2 linked regions of the Homo sapiens genome follow. The protein of the gene in region 1 purifies or fractionates together with the protein of each later gene. This does not show direct contact. Each region holds a gene or a part of one and is shown in the gene's direction. Other genes may lie near its edges.

Region 1 (3,749 bases):
CCAGCTACTCGGGAGGCTGAGGCAGGAGAATCGCTTGAACCCGGGAGGCAGAGGTTGCGGTGAGCCGAGATCATGCCGTTGCACTCCAGCCTGGGCAACAAGAGTGAAACTTGGTCTCAAAAAACAAAAAGACAAACAAAAAAACCTCTTGATGGTTTTTCCCTTGTTTACTATTTGATTTATGTATATTCCTTAAGCTCTAAATACTTTTTGCCCCAACTTGCCTTGGCATTGACTCTTAGTAGTAATGCTGAGTTCCCTTAGTTCCCTTTTACTTTTACCCTCAAAGCTCACTCAGATGTCCCCCTCCATGAAACTTTTACCCTTTACTTCTAAGCTCCCTGTTTGTTCTGAAAGCACTGTGCTTACATCTGAGTTCATATAGCCCCTAAATATGATTCATTAGTATATTTGTTCATTTCCCTCCTTGAAGTTGTGAGCCTCTCACAAAACATTGTTTGTAGGTGGTGGTGATTGTTAACCTCTTTATCCTCAAAGCCTAGTCTAATGCCTGTCATGTAGTAGCAGATGCTCAGTGAATGTTTACTGAATGAGTGGGGCCTGTAGGAAGTGGGGTTCTGCAGGGAGCAGTTCCTCACCAGGAAAATGGCCCTGTAAACTCTGTCCTCAGGAATGCCCATGTGCTTCCCCTGTGGTTTGGAATGAACTCTGCGCAACTCTGTAAGTTCAGTTATTCAGTAATAGACTAAAATGTCTGATGTGTGTCCCATGCTTAGCAGCCGAATAGAGTGATGACTAGGACCAGGCTCTTGTCCCAGATCAGGGCAGGCAAAATACAAACAAACCACATCCTGAGGCCTTCTCATATATGGCTGCATTGTATACCAATGGTCTCAGAGGCAAATGTGTGTTTTCTTGGATCTGTGTGAGGCTTTTGAGCCTTGGCAAAATCTGGCAGAAGCATTAGAGTAAACCAGTGATGGCAGTATATAGAATGAGGGGAGAGAGAGAACAAGGCAAATGCATTGCATCATTTAGGGAAGGCAGTTGGGGTATTGACTGAGCTTTTAGCCTTGAGCAATTGTTAAACTTGTTTTTATTTTTTAACTTTTATGTAAGTTAAATAGCTGCTTATTAAATGTACAAGCCGTAGAGAAAGTTGAAGTTCACACTCACACAGACCATTGAAGAATAACAGCTGCCTTGATTTTATGCGTTTCTCTAAGATTTTGTAGAGTTAGTAGAACTCAGGGAATGCCAGCTGATGTCTAGATGCTACTAGCTTAGGAAAGTGTTCTATTTCTCAGGGTAATGGATATTTACCATACTTTTAATGTAAATCTGGGAAACCTTACTTAGTCTAAAGTGAAAATCTGTGTTGGGTCATTTTATTTTCAAGGGATGTGCCTTGCAGTTTTTTGTTTTGCTCTTTTCTTTAACTGGAGCTATATGATTTCCCGTTTCGTTTCGTACTGAAGTGTTTGAGGCTTTTTCCTCCCCCGCCCAAACACAGAAGCAAGGAGATCAAGCCACGAGTATTCTTATCTTATTGGCAGTGACTCACCTATTTTGGCTCAGTCCTAAAAGGAATTCTGGTGGTTTATTTGGGGTTGATTTTTCCTTGGCTTATGTTCTCTGCACAATAGCTAGGAATTTAACTTGAGTCTAGTGCAGACCTGTCTCCTCGCCCACCTGGAGTTTGTGTTGTGACGTCTCTGTGCCACCACCACCTGGAGAATTGAGGCCTTGGGACAAGTAAGTTGTATGGGTTCCTCCGCACCCCCAGATTCAAATGATATTACAGAGAGGAGAATACTGATGCAGAGAATTTTCTGTCAGCCAGGAAAACTAACTGGGGGTATCTTTTTTTGTCCCTTATTGTCACCAAGCACAGAACCTTAGGAGAAATCTTGGTTCCTTAGAGCTGCCAGCTTCAATTAGGATTAACTTGTCTATTTCACTTCATAGCACAAGCCCTGTCTATGGCCCTGAGGGAGGGTGCTTGTTTCAGACATTGCAGGACAGGAATTTTCACTAATCCTCTTTGAGAATTATGTTGCTGCTCAGCAGGTGTTTATTTTTACCTTGAATTGATTTTTAAAATTTTTTGTGTTGGTCTTTAACTGTCATGTTTATGTAGTGGCACCTATCACTCTCGAGATGAGAGTACAGACAGTGGACTAAGCATGAGCAGCTACAGTGTCCCTCGAACCCCAGATGACTTCCTGAACAGTGTGGATGAGATGGATACAGGTTGGTATTCTTTATTCCTCTTAGTAACCTGACTTAACAGTGGGATATGTTATCACCAGGTCTCATAAGGTATTGTAAGCAAAGATGATTCAGAAGAAAACCAATTAAAATCCTGTAAATTTGAATTAAATTGATCCTGCTTTGTCTCTATACGGTGATTTGTAACTTGTCTTTTCCTAGTTTAAAAAAATATATATCATGGATTGGCCGGGTGCAGTGGCTCATGCCTCTAATTCCAGCATTTTGGGAGGCCAAAGTGGGTGTATTGTTTGAGCCCAGGAGTTCAAGACCAGTCTGGGCAACATGGTGAAACCCCATCTCTATAAAAAAACATACAAAAATAAGTCAGCTGTCATGGTACATGCCTGTAGTCCCAGCTACTCAGGAGGCTGAGGTGGGAGGATGGATTGAGCCCCGGTGATCACACCACTGCACTCCAGTTTGGGTGACAGAATGAGACCTCTTCTCAAAAAAAAAAAAAAAAAATCATAAATTGGATATATTAGCTCTATTTGAATAAAACTCTGATAACATGACTTATGTTAGCATGTTGATCTTAATTGGCAGGACAAACTGACAACCCTGTTAGAACATCTCTCTCCTTATAGATTAGTGTCCTTAATTTTGAGAGATGTCTACATGTAATTCAGTGTTTGTCTTCATCTTTTCTCTAAGAGTTTTTGGTCCACCTTAAGTGTTATGGGGCTCAGGAAACCAGGTGGGAAAGACTAGGAGGTGGGGCTCACTTACTTTGTTAGAATAGTTGCAGAAGGCCAGGTGCGGTGGCTTAAACCTGTAATCCCAGCACTTTGGGAGGCCGAGGTAGCCAGATCACGTGAGGTCATAAGTTCAAGACCAGCCTGGCCAACATGGTGAAACCCTGTCTCTACTAAAAATATAAAAATTAGCCACATGTGGTGGTATGCACCTGTAATCCCAGCTACTCGGGAGACTGAGGCAGGAGAATCATTTGAACCCGGGAGGCGGAGGTTGCAGTGAGCCAAGATCACACCACTGCACTCCAGCCTGGGTGACAGAGCAAGACTCCGTCTCAAAAAAAAAAAAAAAAAAAAAAAAAAAGAATAGTTGCAGGGGTCTTGCAGGAGCTAAGAAATACCTGCCTCACAGGGGTAATTACGGAAGCATTTCTCCTGTGGCTTACCTGGCAACCATTGCCCTAGAGTTGACAACTGCCAGAGTGCATGAATTGGCAGGGAAATGAAGCTGTTCTTTAGCTACCAACTCTTTCACTAACTGCTTCTATTCTGAAAGTGTTTAGCAAGGCTTTTGTGCCTGTATTCATCCAGCTCCTGGCTTTGATGCTTTCTAGAATCCACACTACCCCTCCTCTCTGATTATCTAGATGTTAAATCATCCTTAGGAGCCACTTCAAACCCATTTCACACACAACACCTTTACTTACTCCTCTAATCTGTATTGCTCTCTTCTCCAGACCCCTGTAGCACTTAATGGTTTATGTTAGTTTTTCTGAAAGTATGTTCTATTGAAGCTCTGAGGAGTGTTAATGTTGTCAT
Region 2 (3,749 bases), on another chromosome or scaffold:
CTCTCCCTTTTCCCACTCAATCTCCAACTTTATTTTGCCCCCGACTTGGAAAGCCTTTCCTTCTCCATTTTACCTAAATTAATCTCAGACTCTGGTTAAGACCTGTTTAAGTTCTAACCCATGCTTTCAAAAAACATAATAGATCTCTTCATTTTCTGAGGTCTGGCTTCCATCTGGCAATTTGCCTGTTATTTCCCTCAGTAGTTTGTTAGTTCCTAAAAAGCAGAAACCATGCTGATATTGTGTGTCTTCTTACCATGACTAACAAGTGTTACATTTCTTTTAAAACAAGGAAGCAAACTACAAAGCACCAAGTGCATGATCTTAATTTTATTTATTTATTTATTTATTTGAGATGGAGTCTTGCTCTGTCGCCCAGGCTGGTCTTGAACCCCTGGGCTCAAGTGATCCTCCGACTTCAGCCCCACAGAGTAGCTGGGACTACAAGCTCACGGCACCACTCCGGGCTAATTGTTGTTGTTGTTGTTGTTGTTGTTTTTGAGGCGGGGTCTCTCTCTGTCACCCAGGCTGGAGTGCAGTGGCAGGATCTTGGCTCACTGCAACCTCTGCCTCCTGGGTTCAAGTGATTCTCCTGCCTCAGCCTCCTGCGTAGAGGGGACTACGCATCCACCACACCCGGCTAATTTTTGTATTTGTAGTAGAGACGGGGTTTCATCATATTGGTCAGGCTGGTCTCGAACTCCTGACCTCGGGTGATCCACCCGCCTCGGCCTTCCAAAGTACTGGGATTACAAGCGTGAGCCACCGCGCCCCGCCTGAAAGTCTTTATGTTGTAGTTGTTTTGTATCTATTCCTCATCTTCCTGGGGACAGGGATACCATTTTACACATCTTCCCACAATCAATCACAGTGTTTAACAATTACTGTATGTACTCTATGAATAAGATACCTGAAGATTGATTCTCTTTATCGTTAATGTGTGGACTGTATCAGGCAAAGTAAAACCCCTATCATCAAAAGCCTAAAGTTATTAAAGGGAGTGGAAGAAGGCTATCGGGACATATTTTTCTCGAAGGTGTGACATCACAAATAAAAGAAAATTAACGTATAGTGAAATCATCACTGTAGTTAGAGTCAAAATGCCTTGCCTGTGTTCCAAACTTTGGGCCAGTCAACCTACAGGGTGCACGGTTTCCTCATTAGTTTCTTCAGAGAGTAAATGAGACATTGCATAAGCTAGCACCTAGCATACAGCAGGCAAATACTGCTGGATTTCTTTCTTCCACTAAATGAGAAGAAAATAATGACTCCCACATTTACACGTTTTAGAATATTTTATTTTGCGTCAGCGAATAGAGAAAACAAAGGAGGGATGAGAGAACAGGAAAGGAAAGGGGCAAAAAGACAAAGTGTTAAGCGGATTGACCCAACGCTTTCATCGATATCCTCCTCAATTTCCTTGATCTTGGGTCTCGCTCTACACGCAGGCCTCCAACCACACCGGTCTGTCCGGATCTCCCTCCCCGTCAGTGGCGGCTGTCCCCACCACGCGCGGTCTGATCCGCCACCCCGCCCCCACAGCCCACTTTTCCCAGGCCCTTGGCCATCCCGCGCCCGGTAGGAATTCACCTGCACGTAAACAGCCAGGGCAACCGTCCTCCCTCCTTGGAGCCCGCCTCCCGCGGCCCCGGGCTCCCTCCCCCGCCCCCTGCGCCACCCCGGTGCCCCGCCCCGGGCGGGGAGAGTCGGGGCGAGGGGAGGGCCTGCCAGGTGAGGCGCGGTCACCCTGGGCCTCTCACTTCCGCCCAGGTGAGGCAGGGCCGACACCGAGCCCGCCCGACCCGGGCTCCCACCTGCTCCTCCAGCGCACCAGGTAAAGCGTGAGGTCCCGGCTGTGCAGTGCGCGCTCGCCCCTGGGTGTCCCCGCGCCTGGAGGCCGGCCGGGGGCAGCTCCCTCGGGGCTTCCCGGGCCTGCCTGCCCTGCCCCCGCGCTCTCCCCGCCCGCCCGCCTGGAGTGGGTGGGAGCCGGAGGTGGAGGGCGCCGCCGGGCGCTCAGAGGGGCCGCGGCGAGGATGGGGCGCCCGCGGCGTGCGTCCGCGCTGACCCGGGAGGCGGGGCGGGGGCGCCGTCCTCCTGCGTCGGGCCCGGGTGACCCCACGGTGGTCCCCGCCCCGCCGCGCAGGGCTCGCCGAGGCCGCGGGCAGGGAGGGGCGCCGCCCCGCCTCCCCAGGCCTTTCGGGCCTCGAATCTCGGCCCACTGGTATTCGGGGGTGGCACGGATCCTATTTTGCGCCCAGATCGGTGCCCCTGTTTCGCTCCCAGAGCTGGGCGGAGTCTTTCCCTCCATCGGTGGCCGTGGAAGGAGGGAACGGGGTGAGGGGACAAAGAGGAGGGGGTGCTCAGAGCCGGGCTGAGGGGGCGACTTGGGCCCGGCCGCGTCGCGGCGCCTGGTCATCCCGTAGCGGAGGTTCCCAAGCCAGCGGTCAGGCCCTGGGCTCTGCCAGCCTTGCTGCGTAGATGGGGAGGTTCTGTCGGAAAGTGCTTCCAGCCTTAGGGGAAATTCCTGGACTCCTGCTTTTAAATCAAGCTCAGGAAAGCATTTTCAGATCACTCCCACTCTCCAAAGCGCCCCAGCCGTCCCGCACGCAGGCCGAATTAAGTGAACACCCCTTCACTTGGCACTTTGTCATATTTCCAAGTGGCTCTTGTCACTTTGAATTCCAGTTGGTTGTTTACTGGCTTGCCTCTGCCATTTAGAGGGTGCCCCTTTCAGGGCCTTATTTTTCGACTGCATTTAGGGTCTGGCTATTGGTAGGTGCGCGACAAGTGTTTCTTAAAGGAAGGCAGAAGCCTTTGGAAACCCAGAAGGACAATGTCGGTTCCACTGAGGATGATACTACCACATTCTGGGCTAAATTCCTATTGGCTGCAAATTAATTTGCACACATCTATTTGAAAGGAGTGGAGGCAGGGGCAGCGGTTAAAAACTTAAATCTGTTTGCAGCATTAGAAAATGTTAGGTGAGATTGAGCCTTTTAGCTAAAGTGAGCTTTGATGTTTTTAGGGCCCCTAATGGCCTTTAAGATGTTAACAATAACAACAACAACAAAACACTCCAAATGTGTTGAATTTATTTGGGAATGAGAAATGAGCGTTATAGCCCGAGGTGCACAGGCCTGGCAAGCCATATATGCATGGAAGAGGGGAGGGTAAAAGGAAACTTTTATTGGCAAAGTAAGTGCAGATAAGCTGCGTGAAAACAGAGTTTATTGGTTTTGCAGACTGAAAGCCAGAGTTGGCCATTGTTGAAGATGCCATTACTGGGCAGGTGTTATGGAGAGCATCTTATCAGGCCTGGCAACCTGCCTCATGCCTGTTATCTCAGCTACTTAGGAGGCTTAGGCAGGAGGATCGCTTGAGGCCAAGAGTTGGAGACCAGCCTGAGCAACATGGCTGTCTTTACAGAAAAAGCTTTTTAAATAGTCAGGTGTGTCGGGAGGTTGAGGCAGGGGAATTGCTTGAGCCCAGGAGATGGAGGCTGTGGTGAGTGGTGTTTGCACCACTACACTCCAGCCTGGGTGACAGAGCAAGAACCCTGTCTCAAAAAAAAAAAAAAAAAAAAAAGGAAAAAAGATTATCTTATCTTATCTTATCTGAATTACTGCATTCCTAAAGAAAGAATTTCTTGGGTGGTTATTTTAGTTCCTTCTTGAGACCGATCTTTATCTCAGACTTGCAAGCATGAGCTTTCTCCCTCAGGCTCTCTAGTTTGTTTGGGTTTGACAAAA

The links.
Region 2: the proteins of YAP1 (region 1) and PATJ purify together in Homo sapiens (affinity purification with mass spectrometry; 7 studies listed by BioGRID and IntAct, with this or other methods). This does not show direct contact.

Annotation. Positions count from the first base shown.
Region 1 is NC_000011.10:102,225,368-102,229,116, forward strand, and holds part of YAP1 (transcriptional coactivator YAP1), read left to right. Parts: intron 1-2,101; coding exon 2,102-2,214; intron 2,215-3,749. UniProt on the Homo sapiens protein: Transcriptional regulator with dual roles as a coactivator and corepressor. Critical downstream regulatory target in the Hippo signaling pathway, crucial for organ size control and tumor suppression by restricting proliferation and promoting apoptosis.
Region 2 is NC_000001.11:61,740,722-61,744,470, forward strand, and holds the start of PATJ (inaD-like protein), read left to right. Parts: upstream 1-1,758; 5' UTR 1,759-1,834; exon of another isoform or gene 1,835-2,063; intron 2,064-3,749.